2 separate regions of the Homo sapiens genome follow, and region 1 is linked to region 2. Evidence: fine-mapped expression QTL. A gene starts in region 2. The other region holds a variant in brackets. All regions are shown on one strand. Distances are from middle to middle.

Evidence for each region. PIP is the estimated chance that this variant, and not a neighbour inherited with it, causes the effect.
Region 1: its variant is fine-mapped to the expression of GNG11 in whole blood (TOPMed, PIP above 0.99).

What each region holds. Positions count from the first base shown.
Region 1 is chr7:93,933,256-93,948,993 of GRCh38, reverse strand. LOC105375402 (a long non-coding RNA gene) reads left to right here and starts at 11,480. Exons shown (of 3, transcript XR_927751.3): 1 at 11,480-11,858. The variant T/C (reference allele first, on the strand shown) is at 6,853.
Region 2 is chr7:93,913,396-93,929,133 of GRCh38, reverse strand. GNG11 (G protein subunit gamma 11) reads right to left here and starts at 7,399. Exons shown (of 2, transcript NM_004126.4): 1 at 6,901-7,399; 2 at 524-3,043. The coding sequence starts at 6,996. The coding sequence ends at 2,918. It overlaps LOC105375402 (a long non-coding RNA gene), which reads left to right. Exons shown (of 3, transcript XR_927751.3): 2 at 12,614-12,698; 3 at 14,039-15,192. RefSeq lists enhancers at 7,162-7,797, 13,596-14,795.

The DNA of each region.
Region 1 (15,738 bases), 20 kb before region 2:
CTCCCTCCCTCCGTCCCTCCCTCCCTTCCTCCCTCCCTCCCTCCCTCCCTCCCTTCCTTCCTTCCTTCCTTCCTTCCTTCCTTCCTTCTTCCTTTTTCTCTCTTTCTTTCTTTTTTTGTTAAACCTACTGGCCTTTTCTTCCTTCATTTTCCTCTTCACAATATATATTCCACCATTCCAATAACAATCTTGAGGACAGGTGTGGTGGCTCATGCTTGTAATCCCAGAACTTTGGGAGGCAAGAGGACTGCTTGAGCCCAGGAGTTCAAGATCAGCCTAGGCAACACAGTGAGACCCCTATCTTTGCAAAAACTCAAAAAAATTAGCTGGGCATGGTGGTGGACAACTGTAGTCCCAGATGTTTGAGAAGCTGAGGCAGAAGGATTGCTTGAGCTTGGTAGGTCAATGCTGCAGTGTGCCATGATCTTGTCACTGTACTCCAACCTGAGCAACAGAGTAAGACTCTATCCCTGAACAGAAACAAAAACAAAAACAAAAAATCCCCAAAAAACATTCTTGGCCACATTCTAAATGTACTTATGTCCCATATTTTGATCACACTGGTCTTAACAAACCAGTCCTTAATAAACCCACATATTGAGTCTTTCTTCATTTACATTCTTTTCTGGCATTCCAATAATTTTTTTTTCAAATTACTTTGCAATGACATTACTCTGCAATGACTGTTTCAAACCGTTTACATTCTCCTGAAACTCCCATCCCTACTACTTCCCACTTCTTCCTTGGTGTCAGAGGTTGATGTCACTTACTATCTCAAAGGGAAAATAGATGCCATCAATTGGACATTTCTTCAATCTCTAAATCACATGCTCTAAGCCACCAAACACACATGTCTTTTCTCCTCACCCATGTCTACTCTTTGTCTTTTTGCAAGACAGGAGGTGGCCTGCTCCTTGCTCACACTAAATCTCCTGACTTTTGAGCTTATCCTCTCCCCCTATCTTAGGAACTTTACTCAAATGTTTTTTCTCTTTGCATTATCTTCTAACTTTCCCATTAAACCTGAATATTTTTAATGGCTTTTAAGCTACCTCCAGCCACTCCCAAGAAAGAAGATTCGTTCCTCATTCTCTTTCAGCCACAACAAGCTCTCCAGAAATATTATACATTTTTGCTGTCTCCACTTCTTCATCTCTTGATCACTAGCCAACACTAATCTGGCTTGACCCTTTACCACTCCACCAAAAGAGCTCTCATCAATGTTCCCAGTGGCCCATGTCACTAAATTCTATTCCCCACCACCCACTTGTTTTTGTTTTTGATTTTCATCTCTTTTGATTTCTTAGGAACATTGGAAAATATCAAATACTACATTCCTCTTGAAAAACTTTCTTCTTTTGACTTGTATCATATCACATTTTCCTGGCTTTTCTCCTGTATTTGACCACAACTTGCTGGTGTCTTTTGCATGTTTCTTCTTCCTACTCCCAAGATAACTATTAGCCTGCCTTCAGGCCATGTCAAGTCTCTCTTCTGCTCACTTTTACAACTCACCTTAAGCAATCCCATGGTATTAGCTAGCATCCATGTCTTTGTTGGACATAAATCTTATGCCCCTTCAGAGATGTCCCTCGACTGCCTCCTTCTTTTTCTTTCTTGGTCAGTGCCCCACCTGGATGGACCTGGTCACACCTCTACCTCAAGGCTAATGCTGAAGTTGTTTGAGTTGGCTGTTAAAGATTGAGTAGAATTTTAAAAGATGGAATATAGAAGTAGAAGAATTAATTCCAGAAATCTAAAGTGGCAAAACAAAAGTGCACACTCATAAAAAAAAAATCAAGGCAAATTTTGGAATCAGCAAGTAGTGTGCTTGACATGAGCACAAGCTTTAAAGGTAGGTTAAGCCTGGCTTATGGAGAATTTGGCTGTCAGAATAAGGAGCCCAGTTCTCATTCAGTAGATAATAGCAATCCCATGATGGTTTTCGACAAGAGACATATGGTTTTAAAACAGTGGTTTAAGATGGCAAACCTAAAGATCTTTTGCAAGGTGGCTTTCAGAAAAAAGACTATAGAGACAGGAATATGAAGCTGCAATGTAACTATTTTAAGCTTTCTGTTTTGGGGTGATAAAAGCTTTAATCGAGAAGACAATGGAACCGGGAGGAAGAATGGGGCCCAGAAAACACACTGAAGGACAGCAACTAAATTTGGCATGCCTGATATGCAACAGATGAAAACACAGGTTAAAAAGTCTCCTTAAGGTTAAAAGTAATTGGAAAAAGAAAGTCACTGTTTATGTTCAGAAGGGGAGTTGAAAATGTGAAACTCACCTCTAAGAGTGAAGCCTGGAGTACTCACATTAATTTGAAAGCTGTAAAGAGATGATAGCTGAAAATTTCAAAGTTGAGTTTTCCAAAGAGAAGGACGTAGAGAAGGGGAAGAGAAGAAAGTCAAGAATAAGGCCTTAGGAATTATATAAAATGTTAACAAAGGAAACACAAAAAGAACAAGCAAAGAAGAAATTCATTTTGTGCAGGGCTAGATAAGCCAGAGAAACGGAGCAGGTCAAGAATGCTACTGAGAGGCTAAAAGGAAAAGAAAGCATTTGGCAAATTCCAAGAGTTTAAAAATCCTTGCAAGGAATTAAGAAGAGATTGATGAAACAGCCTGGTGTTTTAACAGACATTGTGGTTAAAGGGGGAAAAATGTTATAATGTGCTAGTTTAAGTAGGGAGTAGAATTGGTGAAAAGTCTGTGGCTTTGCATGCTTGGTTAAAGCCAAGGAAAAACTGACAGCATATTTTTAGTGAGGAGGGGCAATTATTGGAGAGAAGAGACATAATAAGGTAAAGAAGTGACTAAGTGATGAACATTTAGGAAAACGGAAGAAACTAAAGGAATTAAAGGAACTGGGAAAGATAAGTTATTTTAAAAAGGAAGGACACCTTGTCTTGGATATAGGAAGTTATATCGTGGTTGAAAATAGATTAGCTGTGAAGACCTGAGAGCGATGTGCTCAGAAGTCTATTCAAACTGGATGAGATAAACTTTGCAGACACTACTGGAAAAGAAAGATAAGGGAGGAATCAGATCACATGCAGTTATATGTCTCCTAAAATAGCCATGTATTAGGCAGAGAGGAGGGGCTGCCAAAATAGTTTTTCAGCATTTCTTTTGGAAAGCGATTAATGATAAGTTTTGCCCAAATGATTGTATTTGCTATATTTTGGAAAGTCTAAACCTGGGAAAGCAAATAGGTTTAACATGTCATGTCAACTCCAATTGATTAGTAAACCTGCAGTGCTATTGGAAAAGATTATGAGGGCTGTTCTAGCTCGGTAAGAGAGCACTCAGTGACTGATTAGCAATATCTACTTTGAGCCAAGCATAAAGGGTTGATATATTTGCTAACTCTGGAACCATAACTGTAAGTTATTTAGTCCAATTTTCTGACATACAGATCAGAAGCAAGGCCACATTTAGGTATCCATCACAGATTTATATGAAAGTGGAAAAGTCATAAAAAGCCACCCTACTTTAAGGTTCCTTAGCTGAAAGATATAGACCTTGGAACTTGGGATTTGAAACCTACAGGGTTCAAAAAGAAAAAAATCAGACCCCACTCACTTATCCGATCTATTCTTATTCCTTCCAAGTTCATTTGGGACTGGCTTTAGAGTCAAGGTATTGCTCTGTTGCCCAGGCTGGAGTGCAGTGTGTAATCATAGCTCACAACAGCTTCGAACTCCTGGGCTCAAAGTGATCCACCTCCTTCAGCCTCCCAAGTAGCTGGGACTGCAAGCACACATGCCACTATGCCAGGCTAGGTAAATATATTTGAACATTACAGTCAAAGAATTATAAATCAAAGTTCGCTCTACTATCTCAGATCAATTTTCTGATATTCTTTTCAGCAAGAACAAACACTCTGTTCTGGATTTATAATATAAACATTGATATATTTCTAGAGTATAACTTTATAATCAAAAAGAGTTAACTTTTTGATTAACATTATAAAATTAATGTCTATATTTAATAGTCACATTCTTGTTTTTATACTTGTTGTTATAAAATTCCTCTGCTATTATGTAGTGCATTGTTCATGTGAAACTGTTTTTAAAGGAAGCACAGTTCTGTCTTGATAAATATCAGGAAACTGCCAGATGTTTCCTACTGTCTAAGCCAAACCAGTCAACAGTATGATCATGCTTTAACTAACACGGTCACAAAATGCATACCACCCACAGTCTCTCTATAATACAGAGTCCAGTGCTTTAGCACACAGCAAAATGTACAATTTAAATAGAAAACAAAAGAAAGAAGTGAGGAATGTCATTCTAGTGCAGTTTTAACTTTCTCACTGAAAAATAAAATATACATTAACCATTTTAAATTTCTTAATCCAAAAAGGAATAAACTTGCTTTCTAATATCATGGGACATTTCCTTAAATGGAATAGAATTTACAGTTTTTCCCTTAAAAATGGAGACTTCTTTGAAAGATGAGAAAAAACAAAATGAACTTGTTCAAGAATAATATATCAAGAAAGGCTAGTTACTAAGCAAGTTTCTATTTAACCCACAAGTCGTTGTCATGCCCTTGAACAGTCTGCGTTCTAGCCTCAGTCACCTTGACAGGTGGCGAGAAGGGGAGAGACAAGTAGACTTTCAGACAGAATAAATAGTATCACAGTGACTGGGAGACAGAGAAGCTTAAGATTTACTTAGCTATCAACCAGCTGTTTCTGGATAGGTATATACAGATGAACAAAAGTAGAAAATACTGGCATAGGAGATCCAAAATGTGTGTTGTGGAACCATGAAGCCAAATAGTTTGTACTTAAATTAGAAGGCAAAATAAGGCAATTGAGGGTTTCTGTAAGGGGAAATGTATTTTGGATTGGTGGTGAGTTTCTGCATGCAGAAGGATAAAGAAAGAAGTGTGTAAGACAGGGATCATGGTATGTCTGTGTATAAGAGCCTGAAAAGTGTTGCTATCAAATAAGTTGGAAAAGCTCCAAATGGCAGAGGCAAGCAGAGGAGCATGGTAGGCGAGGTTTTGATGTCAAAGGAGGAAAAGGCTTTGAGTAGAAACCAGATTCCAGTTATATAGAAGGTCACAAGTGAATGAGACTTTCAATACACTGGACTTGGCAGTTGGAAAGTCATAGAGAGAAAGTTGGTAGTGAGAATAAGATTGTAATATTTCAAAAGAAATAGAATTTAATTTTTCTCTTCTGAAAAAATGGAGACTCGTTTAAAAGATGAGAAAGAAATGCATGTATTTAAGAATAATATTATTGTTAAGTATGATTAATTAGTAAGGAATGGAGGCAGGCAAATTATATAATCAATGAAATACCTGATGATAAAAAGATCTGAAATTGAATAAAACCATAGAGAGTATTGCTCTCACAGGAAGCAGGAACAAAGAAAAATTTCTTCTTTTGCTTTGTTGTTACAATTGTTGTTATTATTGATTTAGGTAGATTGTACAAATCATGTTTTTAGGCAGAAAAAAGAAACATAACCAATTGAGGGCAAGAGGTAGAAAATCTAAGACAAGAAGGTATAACTTAGGTCCCAGGAGATCCACAGACACCGGAGTTCAAAAACACAGGCTTAGTAAAAGAAACAAAACCAAAAACAAGAACAGAAAACAACGAGACACTTGTTTCTCCATCGAAAAAGAGAAGGACCAGGAAAGAAAGATGAACAATTAACACATTCTCATGTAGGTAGGAGAAAAATTAGGGGAATGTACATCTGATATTTTCAAACTTTTCCACTGAGTAGACGTGTAGGACATTTGCCAGCAAGATGGCAGGCTGAAATAGTGCTGGACTCTTGAAGAAAAGAGAGAAGGTTTGTAAATGATACAGTAAAGAATTCAAGTGAGAAATAAAAGAACCCCAGTGTGCAGCAAAGGTTAGTCAGGTTTTCTTCTCATCTAACCAACACCTCAAGTGCAGATGAAACTCAACGCCATGATAAGACAAGGATGGTCACCTTCTTGGCAAGAGGCTATGGAATTTTATGTCAATCGTTATAACTTTCTTACCACACTATCTTATATGTAACTGAGTGACTTGTACTCGAAGTGGCCACCTCTTTTCTTCCTGAGGAAACAAAAGTAAATTACCTATAGGCCTACTTTAGTCCGGAAAGGCTCACTCCTGCACTCTCTTTCAGAGTGCCTGCCAGTAGGATCCACTGATATGACCTAAGGAAGCCTGCTCACATCACATGTTGCTGCCCAAAGCTGATCATAGAGGAGGAAGTAAACCAATTTTCATAAGAAGTTCAGAGCCTTATGGGAGGGAATGAACTCCTGCTCCCTAATATTTGATGCTAAAATATCTGTTGGATTGGACCAATGTAACACAAAGTTGGCAGGCAAGAAAAGATGCCAAAGGTCTCAAAGAGAAATGCACTCATAGGGCAGAATCGATTATGTGCTGGAGAACCCATTATGTGCTGGCAACTTGTGATCCATTGTTGGGTGGCTGGCACAGCAGTTATCTCAGGCTTGTGCTTTGGTGCATAGTTAGTGAACATATGTGTGACTCAAACAAGGGAGCCATCAAATTTGGGCCTAAGCTTGAAATAAATGGGATTCAGTTCAACAAGCACATTACTGAAAAATGAAGAAACTTTGACTGGACTGTTCAGAAGCAACAGAAAATGTAAACTGATCAGGTGTTCCATTTCTCTACCCTCCTGGTATTTGATAGCTCAACCGGTCCCATTTTCAACTTGTAAATATTTGGAGTGACCATTAAAACGTAAGCAAAAGACACAAACAGTCACTTCTCAAAAGAAGACATACTAGTGGTCAAAAAACATACAAAAATATGTTCAACATTACTAATCACCAGAGAAATGCAAGT[T/C]AAAACCACAATGAGATATTAACACCATCTCACACCAGTCATAATGGCTGCTGCTAAAAAGTCAAAAAACAACAGATGCTGAGCAGGCTGTGGAGAAAAAGGAAAGCTTATACACTGTTGGAGGGAATGTAAATTAGCTCAGCCACTGTGGAAAATAGCTTGGAAATTGCTCAAAGAACTTAAAACAGAACTACCATTTCACCCAGTCTTATTACTGGGTATATATATATTTTAAAAATTGTCCTACCAAAAATACACATACACTCACATGTTCATCATAGTACTATTTACAATAGCAAATATATGGAATCAACCGAGGTGCCCATCAACAGTGGACTGGATAAAGAAATTGTGGTACCTGTACAGCATGGAATACTATGCAGCCATAAAAAAGAACAAATTCATGTCGTTTGCAGCAACATGAATGCAGCTGGAGGCCAGTATCCTAAGCTAATCAATGTAAGAACAGAAAACCAAACCTTATAAGTGGGATCTAAACAATGGGTACTCATGGACATAAAGATAGTAATAATAATAGATGTTGGTGACTATTGGAGGGGAGAGGGAGGGAGGGAGAGGGCAAGGGCTGAAAAACTACTATTGGGTACCATGCTCAGTACCTGGATGATGGGATCATTCATTCCCCAAACCTCAGCATCATGTGATATACTCAGATAACAGACCTGCAACTGTACCCCCGAACCTAAAATAAAAGCTGAAATTGTTTTGAAAAATGGGGTGATAAGGTTCAAGTGGGAAATATATACTTGCTACTAATAATACAGAAAACAATAATTTAATAAGAAAATAAGAAAATATCATCATACTGTTACTGGGAACCACTAAAGACTCCTGTGCGATTACCTAGTCAATTTTCTTTCCCATTAGACTATGAGCACCAAGATAGCAGACATGGACTTATTCATCCTGGTCTCTTTAGTACTGAAAGGCAGCTGGTCTACATTCAATATGTTTTGACCAACAGAGTGAAGAAGGGAAAGAAGGTGGAGGAGGCATGGAGAGAAGAGGAGGGAGGACACAGCAGCCTCCATGGAGGAGCTGGTTCAAATGGAACCCTAATCTCTTAGCTGTGAGCTGATTAGGAGGAAGGGAAGCTGAAGATGATAGATTTAGCAAAGGCTGCTGGGCCAGCAAGAGCATGCAGCAAGAGCATGCCATGGGTGAAATACAGTTACCCCAAAGAAAGTCTGGGAACAAAGGCCAATAATCAGAAATGAGTTGGTGTCAGGGATTTGCTGTTGAGGGAGAGAGGTCATCCAAGGGGAAGCTCTGCAAGCAAGCCAAGATGAAGGCTGAGGGCGATGGCAGTTTCCAAACAAAAACAGGTAAAGACAGAAAAGGAAGAGAGGAGTTGGAGGTGAAGTTTGAAAGCAAAAGGAAAATGAACTCACTAAGATGGTGAGGCAGAGACTTATTTACAGATGAATATATCAGCTTTGGATTTCTAAGTACTTTGCTCTACCCCTACTTCTTAAGAAAATAGACATGCAGGCTTGACAGAAATTTTTTTTTAAAAAAAGAAAAAAGAGGTGGATGCTTTACAACTACAACCAAAGAGAGAAAAATTGCATATGAGTTTATATTAGGAAAAGAGCTGTCTTTTAAAAAATACCTTAAAAACAGTTTTGGTGAAACAGAGGAAATGAAAGTTGAGTCACTGAAAGAAGAGAAGCAAAACAATAGTTAAATTGACTGATTTCCATTAGAAATTAACTAAAATTTGGAGGTGAACTAGAATGGAAAATAAAGGGAAGAAAGAAAGAAATGTTGGAGAAGGACTGGACAGCACAACTTGAAGAACTGAAAGACCTCCATGTACAGAGATGTCTGGTGCTCAATTTGACCTTGTTTTCTCTTATCTCGTAAACTCCCTTTCACCCAAGTCATGAACAATATTTTCTACAGACAGAAATGCCTTGGGAGCAAAGTTTTGGGGAAATGAAGGAAAGACTCAGAAAAGAACAGCAGCAAGAGGTGAGAGGTGAGTGGGCTACAGGGAGGAACTGGGGGTGGAATTCAGAACTAGAGGTGACCTTGAGAAAGTAAGCCCCGGGAATCATAAAGAACCGGACACTGAAGTGATGTGGTATGAGGTGAAAATGGCTGATCACCTGGGGCAGGCTGGTCGAGGCAAAGAAAATCAGAAGGTGGGGGAAAATCAGGAGAAACAGAGAGACTAGAGTAGGATGTGGACACATACCAGGATTTATGTAAGGGAAAGGGAGAGATGGAGGCCTGGAAAACTCACATGTTTGAGATATTGAAGGTGGGAGGATTTTAAGATAAGCCAGTGCTGGCAGAGATGAAGAGGAAGGAAAGGTAAGGGAAACTCAGCAGCAACTCCAACACTGAAGGGCAAAGACAGTACTGATATTTGATATTTCAGTTAACGATTTATCGCAGAGCAAAAGGTGGTTGTCTTCATATTCTACATTCTGCCCAAGGTGCTGCTTCCCCTGAAAGAGGGTCAGGGTACAGACCTGAGGTGCCTTGGACCTCTGGCTCAGATGATTGATAAAAATAAGTCCTGGTTTAAATAAATCATTTAAGAGCACCAGGGGTCAAGCCCCTGACAATTTATCAGACTTTGAATAAGAAGAAATGAGAGTGAAGCGCATCATTAATCAGCCTACAGAGACGGTATGGGGGTTAGACAAGGCGACGACCTCTCACCCTTCATTACTTGCTTGTACTCAGGAATCCCCCTGCCACACGGTCCCCTATTCTCCGGATTCCCTCCCCCAACAATTCTAAAGAAAATCCTATCATGAACCTCAGGAAGTGTGGGCCAAACTAGCTTTGGGGAACTACAAATGAGTAAATCATAAGAAAAGTTGCTTGGCTCGCTATTAACCAGGGAAATCAGATTTTAAATAGAAATACTTTTAGATATTTAACAGGGAAGAAATGAAGTCAGAACACTTTCAAAGTGATAGTGGAAGTGCACATAAACTAAACGTAAACAGTGCAAGAAATTTTCACAAAGTGAATACAACTCTGTCACGAGGGCTGCCATTCAATACCAAAATATGACCAGCAACCCAGAAGCCCCTTTCATGTTCTCTTTCATACTACACTCCAAAGAGCAGACTCGAGCTTTACTTCTAACACCACAGGTTAGTGTTGCATTAAAAAGTGTAGTCATTTTCTTCAAAATTTTAATACTCTCTAGCTGCAAAATAGAGATCATTAATATCCAAAATTGGTAGATATTACCAACTATACTAAAATACTTTAAAGTAGCACAGTATAATAGAACAGCAGAAAGTATAATATTAGTATTGTAATCACTCAAGTTAGGGAGATTGATACATTCTAAGGTTTAGTGTTAGAAGAGTCATACTCTTAGAACTTGAAGTTGACAGGAGACAAGGAGGAAGAGTGGAGTTGAGGTCTCTGAGCCATACGTTGATGTCACTAAGGAAAAAGTCAGTTGAGCAGGTGACTGCAACCAAAGAGAGAGGAAGGCATAGAGTTCAAGTGTCAATAAGTAAAGGCAACAAGTTGTGATCAGAATATGGCAGTGGGGAGCCCTTCTATCCATTAACATTTTTTTTGGTGGCAGAAGGAGCAGCTTCTTTGAGTGATTGTGATGACAGGGAAAGCTAATGGGAGGAAATGATTGAGAAGATGAGTCAGTTTGATGACTGTGGAGTGGAAGCTAGACAAGGCACAGTGGAGGGTATTCCTAATCTTCTGCAAGTCTCCAACACAGTGAAACAGCAACAAGGTCTAAACTAAAGTCCCAAAGTTATCCCTTTCATATGGGAAAAGGATATAAGCACTTTCCCTGCTAAGGTAAGAGATCCTAACCATGTTTGTCTTGTTGACACTTCTGAGATGAAAAAAGTAGATTGTCACAAGGAGGAGCACAGGAGAGAGCAGCACATACACACAACATTTAAAATTCTATTTTAGAAGGTTATCTGACTCCTGAAACTCATTCATGTAGATCCATGTATATTACAGGTTAAGAACTCTTGGTTCAGGGAAAATGTGTATTTGAGAAAATAGCAAGCCAACTGAGAATATTTATTTAAACAGAGTAAAAACAGGGTGTGGTGAGAAGAGCGCTGTATTTGGAGTTAGAAGTCCTGGTTAGATGCATGCCCATGGCAAGTCCCTTAACCCTGGGGCTTAGTTTGCTCATTTCCAGGATGAAAATAAGTCATGGGGTATAATATGTACTTCTTCCTACTTCTCAGGTTCAAATGAAATAATGTGACTGTGCATAGAAAACATCCAAAAGACCATACAAATAGAAGTCACTATCAGTGTTATGCTTACCTATTACTTGGTTTATGCATTCCCAAGTATCCAGCTTTTACTAGAATATTAAACAAAAGAGGAGCAGGAAAGCATTGTTTTTCTTCCCACTGGTGACCAAATGGGTGAATGTCCTTATCTGTATTCTGTAATCAAGATTGAAAAAATAAGAAAACTGTTTCATCAAAAGGGAGTTTTCCTGTAAAAACTTTTTCCTGAACTGTAAATTATGTAGTCAGAACAGTTCTTTGACTTCAGGTTTAAGTCCATTATAAATAATACTAATAGAAATTATACTCTGCCTATTTTTCCATTTCTTTCTAATTCCAGACATCATCTAGGTATCCTTATTCTAATATGTAAAGGAAAGAAAAGAGAAAATGTTGGGTTGCATTGTATTGTAAATAGCAGTAAAACACTCAGAGACAGCATTATAGCAAATATCTGTTTAAGCAAAGCCCAACCAAATACCTCATTCAGCGGAAATTTTGTTTTAACTTAGCTTTTAGGAAATATAGGAGGTTGAAATTAGCCTAATCAGTTTTTGGCAATAATAATCATGATGATGATGGATATAAAGGATAAGAATGAGAAGAAGTGAGAGAAAGGAGGAGAGAGAATAGAGAAGAAAGAAGAGAAAGAAGAAGAGGAGGATAATGGAGGCAAAGATGGAGAGGAAGAAAACCAAGGTGTCAACAGCAATGTGGAAGACCAAGAAGGTATGTGGGACTTTAACCCTTTACCCTATATCTTATTCATTGTTTCAACCTCTCTTCATTAAGTGTTAATTATGTTGTGTACTGAGGGGAATACAAAAGATATATATTATATATGTGATCCAATTATTTGTTTTTTGTTTGTTTTTTTGTTGTTGTTGTTTCTTTTTTTTTTTTTTTTTTTTTTTTGAGACCGAGTCTCGCTCTGTCACCCAGGCTGGAGTGCAGTGGCGCGATCTTGGCTCACTGCAGGCTCCACCCCCTGGGGTTCACGCCATTCTCCTGCCTCAGCCTCCCGAGTAGCTGGGACTACAGGCGCCCGCCACCTCGCCCGGCTAATTTTTTGTATTTTTAGTAGAGACTGGGTTTCACCGTGTTAGCCAGGATGGTCTCAATCTCCTGACCTCGTGATCCGCCCGTCTCGTCCTCCCAAAGTGCTGGGATTACAGGCGTGAGCCACCGTGCCCGGCCAATTATTTGTTATTTACACATATATCAGGTAACCTGGTGGTTTCAAATGAAAGAAATTCAGCTTCTTTAAAGAAGGAAATGTACAACACCCAAAAGAAACAATATCAAGCAGTGAAAAAAGTAACTCAAGTTGAATCAGATTCCCTGGGTTTGAATCCGTATTCCATCATTGAAAACCTGTATGACCCAGGGAAAATTACCTAAGCTCTTCAAGCCTCAGTTTTGTCACTAATCCTAGTACATATTTTATAAGGTCTTTGTGAGGATAAAATGAGATAATGTGTACAAAGCCTTCAACACAAAGTCAGATACACTCCACAAATGTTGACAAGCAGCATTAAGATGCACAGGAGAAGAAAGAAGCCTCTAAATATGGAAACTACAAACCTAATATTCTCATTGTGGGTTTGCTGCTAATTTGCTCCACAACCTTTATGAAAGCATCTGACTTATGGTTTCCTCACCTATCTTAGAAGGTAAACAGAACACAGTCCATGAGACTGACTTCACTTTTGATACCCATTCAGGTTCAGCATTCCCCAAGACCATCCTTAGAGTCACTAATTCACTAGGACTCACATAACTCACTGAAGGCTTTTATAATCACAGTGGTAGTTCGTTAAAGCCAAACAATACAGATCAAAATCAGCCAAGGGAAGAGATGCATGGAGTGGAGTCCAGGAAAGTTCTGAACATGGAGGTTCCAGTTATCCTCTTTCAGTGGAGTCACGGAAAGCACTACACTTTTGAAAACACTGTGTGACAATGTACATGAACTATGGCCAACCAAGGAAGCTCACCTGAGCCTTGGTATCCAGAGTCTTTACTGGGGCTCCCTGGTCAACTGGTCTCAGCCTCCAGTCTCTCAGATGAAGCTGATACTACATGGCCCTAGAAATCAAACTGGAACTGCATGATAGACTTTCTGCATGGCCCAAAGCCCCAGGTAAACAAAGGCATTCTTGTCACGCAGAACTTTCAAAGGGCTTAGAGGTTACTCCCCAGTGGCCAAGGGCAAAGGCCGGATCTCTCTTTGGGCAAGGTTAATTCATTACTACACACTATCCAAAGCTGGACTCAGTTTCATTGCTCTTGACCAGCAGCCTTCAAACTTCCATGACTGGAGCCTACAAAAAAAAATTGAATATTGACTCAAACACATACATATATTTCATATGATATGTCCTTTTATTCGATGGAATATATGCTGATATTTTACTTCATTTGATTTTATCTTACTCAAAATATTTGTTACATTTCACAAAACTGACCACTAATAATGGGTTCTAATATGTAGTTTGAAAAACACTGATCTAGCGAAGGAGTCAGCAGACTATGGCTGTGGGCCAAATTCAGCCTGCTGCTTGTTTTTATAAAAAATGGTTTTTTTGGAACACAACCACACCCATTGGTTTATGTATTTCATTGCCTGTGGCTGCTTTTATATTAAAGTAGTTGTCACAGAGATGGTAGTCCTGCAAAGGCTAAAATGTTTGCTATCTGGCTCTTTACAGAAAAAGTTTGGCAGCCCCTGAGCTAGTAACACCATTATGATTTATAACTTCAGCAAAATGCATTTATAATATTACCTTACCTCCCTTCCAGTAGATGACAAATGCATAACCTTTTATCTATTTTTTAGTTTATACAAATGCATGATAATGTTATAAATTTTAGATTCCAGACACTCAACTAAATTCTTCAAAGAGAGGTATGTTTTGGAAAATGTCTTTCTAAAAGGGTGAAAAGAATCCCATATTTCCAGGGTCAGCTACCAAGTCAATGGATGCACCAAGGCTATGTAATGCTTTAAGCTCATGATTTGTGTCCTCAAACTTGTGACTATGTTACTTATTAATCAAAAAGTATTAGCAAACTCCTTTTTTAGATAAACTGTACCTTTCACTATAGCAAAATATGAGGAATTATGTGAAAAACTCTCAGCACAGTAAAAGGAAGCAGAAGCCTGAGAAATATTGATCAGGATTACAGAGAAAGAGTTCAGTCTTATTAAGAGAAATGTATTGTTTCAAGGGGAGTAGGATCTTCCAATAAAGGCATGCATCCAAAAAAATATCAATAGGAGTCTCTCTAAAGTCCACGTTCAGACAGAACTGAAACAGAAGCAAATTTGGGGAATGAAGCGTAGATTAAATAGCAAACCCCAATTCTCTGGGCATCTTTCTCATCTCTGCTACCTGAGACCGAATATTAGGAAAAGACTAGAAAGCAAAGAAGACTGTTCCAAAGGTTGAGTTAGGGGTGGGTGGAAGGCAGAGGGGCACAATATATCAGTTTTTGAAATACTAGCAAAATTTGCCTATTGTAGTATTTACCCTCACCAAAGTGACTGACTAGTATTGGGAACAAATGAAAACTTGGTACTCCACTGAGTCTGGCTCTATTAAATATGAATCTTTCAGCATGAAGAGGTGATCAAGCTGCAAGAATTATTTCTACTCAATAACAAAAGACACAAGAGGGATATGATCAGATCCTGCAGTCCTGCTTTCCAGGAATTTATATGTCTATTAGTAAAATTAATTTTTAGGAGGCTGCTTATTTTCCCCTAGGTTAAATTAGGCTTTGCTACATTAGCTGGGAGGGTTTGTCAAGTTCCTGAAACTAATTCATTTTGATGCTTCTCTCATAATAGATTTCAAATCCTCCCCCTACCAATCTTTTTGAATTATTATACATCTGTACACTGACCATCCCCACTTTTTGTGTTTAGCATCAGAACCTTCTAGTTTATCCTAATGGAATATCCTTCAACCCCACTCCCACATATTCCTAGGTCATTCTAATTGGCTTCTACAGCCCATGTTTGAGACAAAATTCCTTATCTAATGAGGTGGATTGATTGCAAATGACCTGAACTTTCCACCCTTCCTTGTATTCATGCTTCTTGCCATGTGAATTTGCAGCTTCCCCACTCAAGAAGGGTCATGTATTTTCCTTCCCCTTGAATATGGGTTGGATTTGAGTCTTGATGTGGGCAATTGAATGCAGTGAAAGTAATGGTGTGCCAGTTCTTTCCGTAGGCCTTCAGACACATTTCACGCTTCTAATCTCTTTTGCTTAGAAGCCTGCCATGCCATGAGAAAAAGCCCAAGGAATCTTGTTGAAGGATGAAAGACACCTGACCCCATCACCCCCTTTGCCCCAAACATCTTCTTGCCAACACCCAACTTACCCGTCAGCTCCAAGCTGATCTACCAGCTGACCACAACTGAGTGAAACCAGCCAAACTCAACAGAGTCAGGCCCAGATAAGCCGGCTGGTAGACTCACAAGCAATAAATGCATTGTTTTCGGTCATTGAATTTGGGGTAATTCATTACTCACAGTGGCTGAAAAGATATTCCAAAGCTTTTTTACCAAAGACAGTGTACTCAATTAATTAGCAAGTT
Region 2 (15,738 bases):
ACACGAAAACTGACTAAAAATCATTGGAAATCAAAGAAATGCAAATTTAGACAATGGTGAGATATTAATTTGCATCTAGCATACAAAAAATTTTGGTCTCACAATACCAAGTGTGGGTGAGCTTTAAGGTAGCTTCTGCCTAGAAATAGAAAAGCCCAATTTTTCTTTCTTCTTTTTTTTTTTTTTTTGAGATGGAGTTTCACTCTGTCACCCAGGCTGGAGTGCAGTGGCGTGATCTCTGCTAACTGCAACCTCCGCCTCCAGGGTTCAAGTGATTCTCCTGCCTCAGCCTCCTGAGTAGCTGGGATTACATGTGTGCGCCACCACACCTGGCTAATTTTTTGTGTATTTTTAAGGAGAGACGGGGTTTCATCATGTTGGTCAGGGTGGTCTCAAATTCCTGACCTCGTGATCTGCCTGCCTCAGCTTCCCAAAGTGCTGGGATTATAGGCGTGAGCCACCCTGCCCGGCCTGATTTTTCTAATTCTATATGAGTTTATAGAACCTAAGTCTCACTACACAATGCATGATAACTATTTTTAATCAAATAGTAAATAATTACACAACTATACACTTTGAATAAATTGGATACATAATTTAAATTCTACTTAACAAATTATCAGTCACCAAAGGTTACATTTACAATATATCTAAATATATAGTGGATGTATTTTTTCTTTTTTAATTACAAGCTAATAATTTTAGCAGTTGAACAGTTGAAAATTAAAATATTTTTATTGCACTTCTACATGTTGGCTGGGTTATAATGATAAATGGTAAGAAAAAGAAACAGAATTATATTTAATAGAAGCACCTATAAGATTAGATATTTATTCAGGAAAAACCAGAAGTCGTCCAACTGATTGATCATATGGTTGAAAGAGACATGAAGAGCAAAAGCTAGGACTTGGGAGTGTACACAAATGGATAGCTGAATGTGCTAATAGAAATCAGGATATAGACTTGTAATCGCAACTCCCAACAAGTTAGGGAATAAATGTATTGTCTTGGCCTTTCATGAAAGAAGCAGGTGATTTAAACTGCCTTGCCAGTAACCGGAATAAATGTTTGCTTTCATAGGCAACAGAAGAAAACTTTATAAGTGCAAAGAAATGAAACAGCTAATAGAAGTAAAACTTTACAGGCACCAAAGCTCTAAAATCCCATGCCATGTTAAATGTTAAATGACTAATAGTACTAATAGTTCTATGCTGTTTGGAAGAAATACACCTTTACTATTCCTAAATCCTTCCTAAGAGTAGTAGATCATACTACTCCTTCCTAGGAGTAGTAGTTTTGGGCTAAAATTATCCCTGGGCTCTCAGTAATGCCAATTGATGTCATCACTTGGACAGTGTCAGGAAACTGAAGGAAATAGTTTCTGCTTTTGGTCTGTGTAAACTATTTTTCAAAAGCCTGGGGTATTCTGTTCTTTCCCAGAGAGGGAAAGGAAAGGAATTTCAGAACGAGGATGCTGATATACTTTAGAAAGCTGCTACAGGTTACAGGCGCCTCTCTCGCTTGATAGTAAGGTATACCTACATGTGTAAGTGGGAGAAAAGAGCTAGTCAAGGAGAAACATTGGCTTCTGGTGCCACATTGAAAATTGCAGGTCAAGTTAATGACTAAGTCCATTTGAGCTAGAGCTAACCAGCAAGGGTTTTTCCACGTTTTTCTTTTGGCTCAAACTTGGAGCAATTTTGACCCAAAAGACGGAGAAGAAGCGGGAGAATGCTCAAGGTGAGAAAGAAAGGTCCCTTTTTGTGAGGTTTGGGCTTCAGGTACCTTTGTTATGAACTTGAGCAGGAGTTATACTCTGACGTGTTGCCCTGCAGGATAAAACCACTGAAGGGAAGGTCACTGTGAAAAGGTAAGCCACAGACTGGGAGAAGGTATTCGCAACACATATCACCAAACACGAATAAATGGCCAGAATATATGAAGAATTCCTACAAATCAGTAAGAAAAAGACCAACTAATCTTTAAAGTGGGCAAAGATTCACTGGTTCCTTTGGAGGAGAAGAAAAAAAGGCATGTTTGGCCCAGGCCTGCTGGAAAATGCTGGCAAGCATGAGTGCAGAGGTCCAAGTGTCTGCACCAATGCCACAGAACTGGAGTAGTGCCATGCCCAAGACCTGGAGAGCACATGGGAGATGTAGCTCTGTGCAGGAATAAGTACTGGCTCTCAAAGCCAGGGCTGGCCTGGCCACTACACGGCAGAGAGGCAGGGCACTCTTCCTGAACCCCAACTCAGTATTTTCTTCAAGGCTACTACTACAGGAACACTATTAAGAAGATCTAAATGATGATAAACTAGGGAAGTACTAACATAGATGTGGCTTGGCCTTGTTCCTGACTCAGATAATCTGACTTCTGTCAATGTTATAGGAATTCTACCTGCTCAGTTTCTTAATAGTTAAGGTTAGATCAAACACGTTCCAGAGGTCAGAACTCAGCACTCTAAACCATTGACGCAGGGTTTGGAGATGTGATCTGTCGAACCACCTAACCTTCTGAATCATATTCCAAACCCAATCATACTCCACACCCAAAAGATTACGGGGAGAAATATAAAAGTTAATGCATGAAAAGTGTCTTCTTAAATCACCAACACTCATCTTCCCAAGACAAAACTTTATTTGAAGCATCAAGCAATATACTGAAAGAAGTGTCATGCTCAAGTAATGTTCTTATTTCCATAATTGTACATCTGATACTCTCTGCTCTCTTAAAAAAGACTGCATAGTGAGCAAAGATGAGTAGCACATATGCTTTTATACATAACCCTATCTATATGGTGCTTAAGAAAGTCTCCTTTTAATTTCATTCTTCCTTCCTTAAAAAGCATGTTGGTTTTATCTGGGAAAACTAAAACAAACTAGTTCTTCCACTTAGGATGCAGTTTCTCCCAAGTTATTTATGAAATAACACAGCTGCCTTTTTCTTTAAAGGGGTTCTTGTCTTCTGGAATTCCCTTTACTAGAGGATCCTCTCCAGAACGTTCTTCAATATAGTTCTTTATTTCTTCAGAACATTTAGACACCTTAAGTATAGAAAAAAAAGAGAATACATTAGGTTAGGGTTGTTTAAACTTTGTCCCTACGCCTTAATGAAATAAGTATAATTGAATACAATAAGTTTTTAAACATTTTTTTACATTTACATATATATGTGCATGTGTGTGTGTATATATTATATATATAATACATATATAAAATCTGGGCTCTGCACTCTAATATTTTTATTCTATTACTATACCTATGATGCAACCTATGTAAAATATATTTCTTACTGTTGGTCGTTGGTCAAATTAAAAAATGTTTGAAAGTCACTGCATTAAATAAATCATCTCCAGCAGTTTTTTTCCATTGTGTCTCATATGATTTCCTTCCTCTGCTAAAATACAATTATGCCATGTCTACAATATTTTAGGAACTGAAATATACTCTTATTTTAATTTTCCATGCTAGTGAGCAGGTGCAGTAGTAGATAATCCCCAAATGTTTTGGGGTGTGTAATGCCACGATTCTCACTTATGGGTGTGTGCCATGTTCTGAAATTTCACGAAATGATAGAAGCTTTGGAAAAAGCCTGATTCTGGAAAGATTGGAATTGTCCAAATATCGCACTCTGTGTTGCTCCTCAGAATTTCTTCCTGCTGCATGAGGGCAATGATCATAATAAAAGACTTATCTGAGACTTATTAGGCTTATCTGAGAATAAATTTTTTTCTGAGATGGAGAAAAAATTGAATAGTGTCTTCAAAAAGTCTATTCTTAAAAGAAGAGTTTCTTCAAAAAGTCTATCTATCCTTAAAAGACAGGTTGCAAGAATGAATTAAAAAAAGAATAAAAACAAAAGAAAAGAAATTAGGGTTTTAATGAAGGCCTGTATTGCTAGTAAGAAATTTAAAGTAAAAATTACAGAAGTACCAGCAAATTTAATTTAATTTAATTATTTATTTCTTTTTGAGATGGAGTCTTGCTCTATTGCCCAGGCTGGAGTGCAGTGGCAGGATCTCGGCTCACTGCAAGCTCCGCCTCCCGGATTCTAGCCATTCTCCTGCCTCAGCCTCCCAAGTAGCTGGGACTACAGGCGCCCACCACCACGCCTGGCTAATTTTTTGTATTTTTAGTAGAGACGGGGTTTCACCACGTTAGCCAGCATGGTCTTGATCTCCTGACCTCGTGATCCGCCCGCCTTGGCCTCCCAAAGTGCTGGGATTACAGGCGTGGGACACCGCGCCAGGCCGCACCAGCAAATTTAAATGGAGACCTATGAAAACTGGGCAAATGTTCCCATTGAATTAGTAATCTAAATTAGTAACCTCAAACTGTTTTAACGGTTACTACTAAAACATGTTTGCATGTGTATCCCAAAATGAATATAATTTTTAACTACAAATAAGTACAGACACTGCTTTGTTAATACATCATGCAAAATTATAAAACATAAACTGGAAATTATAAATGGGTGAGGTTTAAAACTAAACAGAAATAGCAATGTTAACATTTTACTTCCACACCCCAAATGATTATCCTCTGCAAATCAGTGTGGAAGCCTCTGACCTCAAATTGAAAACTAGGTGATGTAGTTGTGTGACTTAAAATCTGGCAAAATAAAATCTTTCAAATACAATTCTTTCAGGTAACATTTGCTCTCGTTTGTTGACATTCAGAGTGCATGCATTTTAAGTGAATTTTTAGAGTTGATAATGCACGTGTCATAATTTAGGGTCTGTCGTCCCAGGTTAATTTCTCAGCAAGATACATGCTCCCTACATTGAATCTTTTCTTACAAGGTTTTTTCATTAGGTTTCAGAAGAGGTCTGTAACCTCCAAATGTGAGTAATTGCTCCTCTGATACATTTCCTTCCATAATCAAGAGGACATGTTTGATAAACATTTAACTACAGCCAGAATGCAACTTGCAAGTTTTGTCTGGGCCTAAGTTAAGGACTGAACACGTAGCCCAGATGTTAACTATTTATTGACTGAATAATGGACTGGGAATGAGAAGAAGAATGTTTTAGTACCTGCCCTATCACTATCTATCTCTGTGGTCTTAAATGTGGAGCTAGTTAGCCTTTGTGGGACTCAAGTTTTTTTTAATCCTTAAAGTGAGGGAGATGAATGATCTCTAAACATTCCAATGCTTGCCTAGCAATAATAATGTATAATTCCAAGTGTATAATCAAATGTCTTAATATTATTGTTGAGATTTAGATGCCTCTTTCTGTATTTCCTAAGGTTACATATATCCAAAGTTTTTTCTCCCTCTGGCATACACTTGAGGTTTCTGGAGGTGGGAAGTTGATGCCACAGGCCGTGTCCTAAAGGGTCAGGCTGGCTAGCAGGGAGAAACTGCTAATGAATGATACAGTCAATTTTTACATAGTCGGTTGCATCCACATCACTTAACTTAAAACTCTGAGTAAGTAGAAGACGCTTGTCTTTTTTCCTAAGTTCTACACAGTGATACCAAATATTAAGATATTAGAACCTTGCATAGACAATGCTGTACTTCAGCATATGAAACTCTGTTTAATATGTAACTCCTAAGGTTTATTGTGTGAACATATCTAAGTGGCCAGCACTTGCTGTACTGGGAACTTCGCCATCCATAAAATGGGTCCCTTAAGGTTTCAAGAAGCGTGCTTATTGATTGGGTAGTGTAACTTCCTTTTTTTCCCCTTTAAACGCGTTGGTGTTTTTAAAGCTACAAACCCTTAACATGATAGAAGGGACAGCTCATTATAAAAGCTAGGAAGAGCCGGGATTTGGATGTGAAAGGTTAAATTTGAGAAAAGAAATATGTAAAAAGTAAAACACAAAAATGCCTGCATCTTCTAATCATCACTCAACAGTGAAGACTCTTGCCCTTAACAGATTTATTATAACTAGAACAGGAAGGCAAGTGAGCATATTATAACGCTTCATTTCCATTGTTTTTCTTAATTTTTTCTAGTGCTAAACCATAATAAATAAGATCAGTTCAAAATTTTCTTGCTGAAGAGGAAAGGTTAATTATCTTTAAACAATATCTATTCAAAGACCTTTCCTAGTCTACAGGATGCCTGATTGAGTTAAAACAGGAAGAGGGATTAGTGTCTGAAGGAAGGTCTTGATGACCAGTAAGAAATTGAAGTAAAACTTATAAAACTCCCGAGACGTTTCAGTGGAGAATATTGAATACTGGGTCATATGTTCTCAATGAAATGGTAATCTCTATCAATAGTCTCTAAAACTTTAAAATTGTGATCACTAAAAAAATTTTTCATATGCACCACAGTGTATGTATAATTATTTATAAATAAGTACAGATACTACTGTATTAATCGCATACTAATAAAACATAAAGTGAAAATTATAAAGGGATGAGATTTACAAATAAATATAGAAATTCTAATATTTTGTTCCCAAATTTCGGTGGACTGTTCTTTGCATATCACTGAAGGCCACTGGTGAAATTCAAAATTAAATAATGTACTTGTAAGACTTTAAAATACGGTTTTAGAAAATTTCTTTCAAATATCATCCTTTCTAGTAGTGTAAAAGATCAAAGAACCAAGTAGCTATCCGCTTTTTTCCTACAAGTGAGTTTTGAAAAACAGCTGTCTAATGGAAAGCAAGATTTCTTGTCTATTTTCCCCTTCCTAGGCATCTTAAAAGTTAGGACATTTGGCCTTAAATTACTTATCAGATCCTTGCTCCCTCCTCTACCTCCTAGGATTTCCCCACATCAGCTGGCAGTCCCCAGGCACTGCCAAAGGGTGGTGAGAAGAGAAGCTACAAAAAGGGGGAAAAATAAGCTAAACTATTTGCTTTACTGTTACTAAGCAGGAAAAATCGGACCCTGCTTCATTTCAGAGAAGGAAATATTCCGGAACAGCCAACTTACTTGTTGTCTCTGCAACTTCACTTCTTTGCGAAGCTGCTCAACTTCCATTTTCAGTTTTTCCTTCTCTGGCAAATCTTCGATGTGAAGGGCAGGCATTTTCGCCCCAGAACCGGGCTCGGGCTAGCTCTGGCAGCGGAGCCGCTGGAAGAGCGGCGAAGCTCGGCGCGTCCCGAAACAACTGAAGGCCTGGCCCGCCGCCCACCCGCGCAGGATGTGACTGCAGCCCTGCTGCGGTCCCCAGCTCCCCGAGGGCTTGGCTTTCTCCGGGACGCTTGTCACGCCAGCGTGCCCCAGCTTCCTAGGACCTGAGAACTCTGCCTTTTCTCAAGTCCCTGCAACCCAGGAGGCCTGCCCGGGTGCTAGATGAGGGTTAAGTTTGAGACTGGGTCCAAGCAGCTTCCCGCTGCTCAATCGCCCAGCAGGGATGCTGGCCACGGACAGGCCCTGACTCAGGACCTGCCACGCCCGCGGGGGACGGCTGGGCTGGGGCTGCAGGACTGGGAACAGCAGAAGTTTTACTTTGTGTTCTCCGCGCACCCCCGCTCCTTTTTTTTTTTCCGTTTCCAAGTCACATCCGGGTTTTGTTTGTGAAGCTAGGAAAAGGAGTACACTACCCAGCAGGAAATAACTACCCTTCACCTCTCAAAGAGTTTTAAAAATATGCTAGATATAGCTTTTCCCTAATTACATACATAGGTTGTTGCAAAAGTAATTACTTTTCTCTAATTACATATATAGGTTGGTGCAATTAGTTTTGCACCAACGTAATAAATGCATAGTGGAGAATGCGGACGCTTAAGAAAAGGCTGAAAAGAAAATGAAGCTTAGCCCTAATCCCAGAAATACCCACCAGTGTTCTGCTCATTTGTGTCCATCCGGCTTGTTCGAGGCCTAATATGGGTTTATACATTTTGGGCGAGGAGGGGGCAACAGGGTGTGAATATCGTTTACAAGTTGCAAGAACATTTTCTATTATTAAATAATCATCTGCATCCTCAACAGCAGCAGAGTTTGTATTTTTTTTATTTTTCCGGGGGAATGTTATGTAGAGGGGTGCATCAAAGGATGATATAAGAGAAGACAGAAGCAGGAATCTTAGAGTTCTTAACCGAAAGCCTTTCTCCACTCCCCAACCCTAAGTTTTGGGTGACACTTGACACCAAGGATTTTGAATTCCTGGCTCCTGAACCTTCCTGGATGTAGGCAGTGGATTCATTTAGTATTAGTTTCTCCACTTTCTGGCAAGCACTATTTATCTAGCTGTTGCTCTGGAAAGCCAGGAAAAGTGTCCGATGTGAAAAAAGTTTACATGCAATAAAACTTTCCCTTTAACTGTAACTAAAGTCTTGTTGATGGTGGTCAAAAGAGTAGAAGAAAAATCAAACATGAATGTAAGAAACCTTCCCTAGCAGTTGGATATTTCTCTTTCTTTCCAGAGATAACCTCCTGCCTCACAGAGTCAAAGGCAAGTGAAATATTAACTTAATATTTCAGAGTAGCTGACCCAAGACACCCATGACCATTCCCTGTTTAGGAAGCAGGAGTTTTTGTTCGTTCCTAGTTTCTTACCACGCTCCGCTCAACCTCAATGAATAAATTAGAATGAAAAAAACAATGAACCACTTAATGAATACTCCTGGCGTGTAGTTGCAGCTCTGCCACAGGCCATCACTGAAGAAGTCATTTAATTTTTCTTAGTTTTGGTTTTCTAATTTGTAAAATGTATAGTAAGGCAGGGAAGTAGTGAATCAGCTAAGCTATGTTGTGTCTCTAATTGTGTTGGTATGTCTATATATGATAAATCATTTTCACAAAGAAAATGTTTAAGAGCTTCACTTTCAATATTTGAAATACCAGGGTTTTCCAAGCTCAGAGTAGTTAGAGCATCTACTGAAGTTTACTTGTAAATAAGCAGGGAGACTAGACAAATGTCCATATCTGTCTTGTGCACTAATTCATTTTTAAAATTTTCTATTACTTAAATTTAAAAGGTTGGTCAAAAATACCTTAAATTAGTGAAAGTAATCAACGTGAATGTGGCCTAAATTAAATAGGTTCAGCACCTAAGTTAAATAAATTGGTTAAATAAATTATTGTGTTTTTGTTCTTTTTTTTGTTTTTTTGTTTTTTTGTTTTTTTTTTTTTGAGACGGAGTCTCGCTCTGTCGCCCAGGCTGGAGTGACTGGCACGATCTCCGCTCACTGCAAGCTCCGCCTCCCGGGTTCACGCCATTCTCCCGCCTGAGCCTCCGGAGGAGCTGGGACTACAGGCGCCCGCTACCACGCCTGACTAATTTTTTGTTAATGTGTGTTTGTTCTAAGTCATAAAAATATAATTATTTTGGCTTTGAAGTTTCTTTCCCATGAAATCATCTAGTTGCTTAGAGGGATAAATACTTATAAGCCCATATTGGTTCTTTAACTTTTCCCATCGTATTATGAGACGTATTAGAAACAAAATACTTGTTAGTCTTTTTTATTGTTATTAAATAATTCATATTCTAATATCTTAAGTAAATTGATTAAACTGAAGTGAATTGCAAAATGTTGAAATTGCATGATCACACAGGATTCTGAAAAAGGTTTTATTGTTGCTGGTTTCCTGTTTGTTTGTTTGTTTGTTTGAGACGGGGTCTTGCTCTGTCACCCAGGCTGGAGTGCAGTGGCGCGATCTCGGCTCTCTGCAAGCTACGCCTCCTGGGTTCACGTTATTCTCCTGCCTCAGCCTCCCAAGTAGCTGGGACTACAGGCGCCCACCACCACGCCCAGCTAATTTTTTTGTATTTTTAGTAGGGACGGGGTTTCGCTGTGTTAGCCAGGATGGTCTCGATCTGCTGACCTCGTGATCCGCCCGCCTCGGCCTCCCAAAGTGCTGGGATTACAGGCGTGAGCCACCGCGCCTGGCCCTGTTTGGTTTTAAATAGTAAAATGATGAGAATATTTTTTTTTAAACAAAAGGATGTGTAGTCTTCTATGCCTAGACACCGAATTTACCTCCCAGAGAAGAACCATGTTAAGCAATTTCTCATGTATACTTGCAGAAATAGTTTATCAGCAATATTCAAAAATTTTGAATAAATAAATTTTAAAATTTGTTTAGCTGTGTCCAAATGTTTTGTTAGGTTTTTACTTATATTTTACATAGTACCCCGGTAAAATTTATTTTACAAGTAGTATGAGTAGAAACCATTCTTTAGTAAAAATGACAGGTGCAACCAGCAATGAACTTTGATTAATTAGCCCACTGTCGTTTCACAAATGTTTTATAGAAATTAGTTAATAAAAATAAAAGTAACCATTTTCACTTTTAAATTATAAAAGAGTAACAACCATGAAATTTTTACTTTGGTATGCAAAAATAGGAAAAACAAGGTTTTGACAATTTTTGTGATTTGTTATGTTGTTAAAAATCTATATAAAGAAAAATAAAACATTGAAGGCAGTTAAACTGGAATTGAGCTAATACTAACTTGAACTCAAAAAAGATCAGGATTCTGGTCTTATTTTATCTTGTGATTTTTGCAAGAAACACATTATTTCTGCTTTTTTATTTCGTGTAAGTAAACTAGGTTACCTTTCAAAGTCTGCTCTTCTAAAATTTATAGAGTGACTTTGAGAGGCCGATACAGGAGGATCACTTGAGACCAAAGGTTCAGGAGTTTGAGACCAGCCTAGGCAACATACCGAGACCCCGGTCTCTACAAAAAAATAAATAAATATAAATAAATAAATAAATAAATTTAAAAAGTGCATAGTAACTGTTTTGACCATTGAAATTATGGTTTCTTTAAAGAAAGTACACTTCAGACGCTCTTGGTTCATTTGATATTTGTTTTAATCTGTTAAAACAATCATGAGGCAATTTTCAGGAGCTCATTTGTTTCCTGTAACTACCTACCTAAGATTCCTTTTCTTTTTTTTTTTTTTTTCTTGGGCAGGGGAAGGAGTTTAACTCTTGTTGCCCAGGCTGGAGTGCAATGGCGCGATCTCTGCTCACTGCAACCTCCGCCTTCCGGGTTCAAGTGATTCTGCTGCCTCAGCCTCCCGAGTAGCTGGGATTACAGGCGTGTGTCACCACAGCCAGCTAATTTTGTTTTTCTTTTTTTCTTTTCTTTTTTAGTAGAGACGGGGTTTCACCATGTTGGCCAGGCTGGTCTCAAACTCCTGATCTCAGGTAATCCTCCCACCTAGGACTCCCAAAGTGCTGGGATTACAGGCGTGAGCCACTGCACCCAGCCCTAAGATTCCTTTTCTAGATGAAGAGAATGCCAAGTCAAAGGATGATCTGTGTCTGATGCTCTGAGTATCTTAGCAACTACTTATAATTCAGGATATCAAAATGATTTCTCTGGCTGGGAGTGGTGGCTCTCACCTGTAATCCCAGCACTTTGGGAGGCTGAGGCAGGAGGCTCACATGAGGTCAAGAGTTCGAGACCAGCCTGGCCAGAATGATGAAATCCCTTCTCTACTGAAAAAAAAAAAAAAAAAAATAGCCAGGTGTGGTGGCATGAAATTGCTTGAACCCAGGAGGCAGAGATTGCAGTGAGCCAAGATCGTACCACTGCACTCCAGCCTGGGCGAGAGAGTAAGACTCCATCTCAAAAAAATAAAATAAAATAAAATACAAATAAAAATAAATGATTTCTCTTACCAATTTTGTTTCTATATTACTTTAACTCCCATCATATATAACTGATCATTCTCATTACTTAGTTTACTATTTTCCTCATGTAAACACATTATTGAGGCATTTAGGAAGTTTGATCCAATATAAACTTTTATAAGCACCACTCTTGCCTGCTTTTAAAGTCAATTACATTGTCCAGACAATTTGTTAGTTGATATGACACTTTTCAAAGATGAACAGTGCTTCTGACTTGGGAAATCTCCAATGTAGTACTGAAATTAAAACAACCGTAGAAATTATAATGAGAAAAAGTAAAGTAACGTTAAATGACTTAAGAGACACACAAAATACTCTTGAGGTAGAATGGGAGAGATAGTCTCATAAGAAGAGTAGGATTTCAAAAGGCTGAAATGGGGTGGAGTGGAGGGAGATCTCAGGTGGAGGGATCAGTATGACCAAATTCCAGGTGGTGGGAAAATGTCCACGGGAAGTATAATAATAGAGGACATTTGTTAGGCTTCTTTCTATGTACCCGTTTCTGATCTAAGAGATTATAAGTATTCAGATAATCTAGCCTAATCACTAATTTTATATATAAAAAAAAACAGATTCAAAAAGTTCACGTCATTTGTCCAAGTTCTCAATGACAAGGTGGAAGAGTCAGGGTTTTAATTTTGAATTGTTGGGCTGCAAACTTTGTCTCCAATGGTAAACTGAAAGTTAGAGATGTTGGTTAGGACCATCTTCTACAGGTTACTGAATGCCATAGCATGTACTTACTTTGTATTTATTTTAATCAGAGAAAGGGAGATATACTGAACACTTCACTAAATAAATACTAACTTGCAGGTGGAAAACTTCTAGAGACAAACCACAATTAAATAAACAAATAAATTGTAGTATGCCAGGTGGTGATGGTGCTACGGGGGAAAATAGACTGAGAGAGAGAGACAGGAAGCGCTTGGTGGAGGTTGGGAGGACTGTATGGAGAGGGTTTTGTAAATTTAAATAGGAGGATAAAAAGCTTTTCTTGAGGAAAAATAGATAAGACATTCAGTAACTAATCCCAGAATCCCTTAATACTCAGAGCACATTTGATGAAGACACGTGGTGGGGTGTGTTGCTGACTGTTCAGCCAGAAGCCCAGAGTCTTGACCGAAGAAATTTGTCAGGTGACTTCTCTGAAACTTTATTTTCTCCATTTCAAAATGAAGAGTTTAGACAAGAGTCAACAGATATTTGTTGAGCATTTATGATGATCAGAGTGGGAGGGCATTGTGCTAGAAGCCAAACTTTGGTACAACTTTCAGACTCCCTTCCAGACCAAATAATAGATAATTTTAATGTTTTTTTTTAAAGTGTGACAATCAATTAGTATTTCTGAGTATTCTGATCACTGAAGTATACAAAATAGCACTGTAAATGTGAGACAGCAACAAGAAAACACTGACCACAAAAGTGGTTACTGATTTAGGTAATTACAACTTGTCATTTGTTACAGAAGCAGAGGCAAGTTTTCTCTTAGTCATTAACACAATGGTAGTGAAATGTGACTCATGTAAACTCAACAGGATGCCAGAAGGACCTGATGTAGGTGATGGAGATTTCTCTCTCATGTGTGCTCACCTTGTTAAAGAAAAGACTGTGGTGTTGAGTCTTCATGATGATAGGGTAAAATAGCATGTTTCTTAAAGCACTTTAGAAATTTTGTCTAGATCCTTTCTCAGTAATAATACTAGTTAACACTTATTGTATCTTACCATGGACCAGGTAATATGCTGAGTGTTATAGTTGCATTAGTGTATTACTTAACCCCTACACAAAACAGAAGATATAACCATTATTGTCTTCATCCTATGCTAGGAGAAACAAATTTAGAAAGAATTAAGTAGCTTATCCAAAGTGAGTTGGGCAGTAAAGTGGCAGAGCCAGAACTGTCTGGCTCCTAAGTGCATGCTTATAACCGTGATTCTGCTGCTGGTTAAATTCACCGTGCTCCGTGACCACAGACTGAACCCTCAACCCAGTTGGCATTCTGGGGAAAAGTCACAAGATAGGTGAACTGCATATCAGAAAAATAAGCTTCCTAATTCCATAAGCAAGAGAAAGTTTGGGAAAGAAAACAGAAATTTAACCACAAAATTTCTGGGTAGAAAGTTATAAGTATTGAAAGGGAAGTGAAAAAACATAAAACAGTAAATATATGCTGACAACTCAGAATAATATAGAATCATTTATAAAACATAGTTCTTTTTAAAGAACTTTAAGCAATATTTTTTTGGCAATTATGTGTTAAACCCTGTGCCAGCTATGTTAAGAAAAACATAGAATGATGGGTTACCACACCCCAATTTTTATTAAAAGTTTACATCTATAAATTTAAAAATTCATGTACATGCATAGTAGTAGCATTATGTGTGAAAAAAATCCATATTGTTGTTAACGTTTGAGATATTTCCAAGAATTTGTTTAATTTTTTTTCTTTTTTTTTTGGTATTTTGAAATCACACAGCCTCCTTTGAGCTCTTTGAAGGGATTTTTGTCCTCTGGGATGCCCTTTACCAGTGGATCCTTGCCAGATCATTCTTCAACGTAATCTCTTCTTCACAACATTTGGATACCTTAAGGGGAAGGAAAAACGGATGACTCATTTGGTTTAAAACAGAATACTCCAGATGCCAAGAATTTATTTACTGCAATAAGTTTTCAGGTCGTATAATTTCAGTTTGATTCTCTCTGCTTTCCACCAATGCATACGTACTTTGTAGGAAAGAAGAAAGTTGCACCCTTCCCACTCCTTCTGGATATATCTCCAGACAAAGGAAAAACAGCTGGCCATGCTCCAGCTAAAGATTCCCCGTAGACACTGCCTCCAACATCAAAGGAGACAAGACCCAGGAATCAGAACACAACTGGCAACGGAAGTCAAGAATGTCATCAGATTTCATACTGATTAAATCTTTTTCCTCATTCCAAAAATGTGACTCGTAAAGGTGGAAGAGAATAATTATTAAATTCCAGGCTTATCATCATCCCTAAATTCTCAGAAGTATATACATGGCGTGATCTCCACTCACTGCAACCTCCATCCTCCACCTTCTGGGTTCAAGTGATTCTCCTGCCTCAGCCTCCTGAGTAGCTGGAATTAGAGGCACACGCCACCATGCCCAGCTAATTTTGTATATTTAAGTTTGTTTTTGTTTTGGTAGAGACAGGGTTCACCATGTTGGCCAGGCTGGTCTCGAACTGCTGATCTCAGGTGATCCTCCCATTTAGGCCTCCCAAAGTGCTGAGATTACAGGCATGAGCCACTGCACCTGACCCTAAGATTCCTTTTCTAGATGAAGAGAATGCCAAGTCAAAAGATGAACTGTGTCTGATGCTCTGAGTATCTTAGCAACTACTTATAATTCATGGTATCAGAATGATTTCTCCGGTGAGGAGTGGTGGCTCAGGCCTGTAATATCAGTACTTTGGGAGGTCGAGGCGGGAGGATCACTTGAGGTTAGGAGTTTGAGACCAGCCTGGCCAACATGGCAAAACCTCTTCTTTACTAAAAATACAAAAAGAGTTAGCCGGGCGTGGTGGGACTGAATTACTTGAACCAGGGAGGCAGAGGTTGCAAGTGAGTCAAGATCGTACCGCTGCACTCCAGCCTGCGTGAGAGAGTGAGACTCTTGTCTCAAAAGAATAAAATAAAATAAAAAATAAAAAAACAGATTTCCCTCACCATTTTTTTCTGTAAGACTTTAACTCCCATCATACATAATTGATCATTCTCATTACTCAGTTTACTATTTTCCTCATGTTAACTCATATTTTAGTAATTTAGGAAGATTGATATTAGCTTGGTTTTAAAATTTGGCTAAAATAAAACCAGTACAAATTAAAACAACAGTGAGGTGTTTTCTTTTCTTTTTTCTTTTTCTTACTAAAGCTTACACTCATCTATGTGTGCAAAATATGTTTAAAGTCCAAGTAGCTCAAATGATATATTGTAGTATCTATAATAACTCATTCTCATTAATGACACCAGAAAATTTTGTTAAAGAGTCACATGTTAAGGTTGTGTGGGAGTGGTTTTTGTTGCCTTGTAGTCTTACTTCATTTTCTTTAACCTAGTTATCCCAGTCCTGAAATAACAAATTCTGAACAAACCAAAGTCACTGACAGTTATAGCTCTGTAGCCTGTGGGACAGTCATGATTTCATT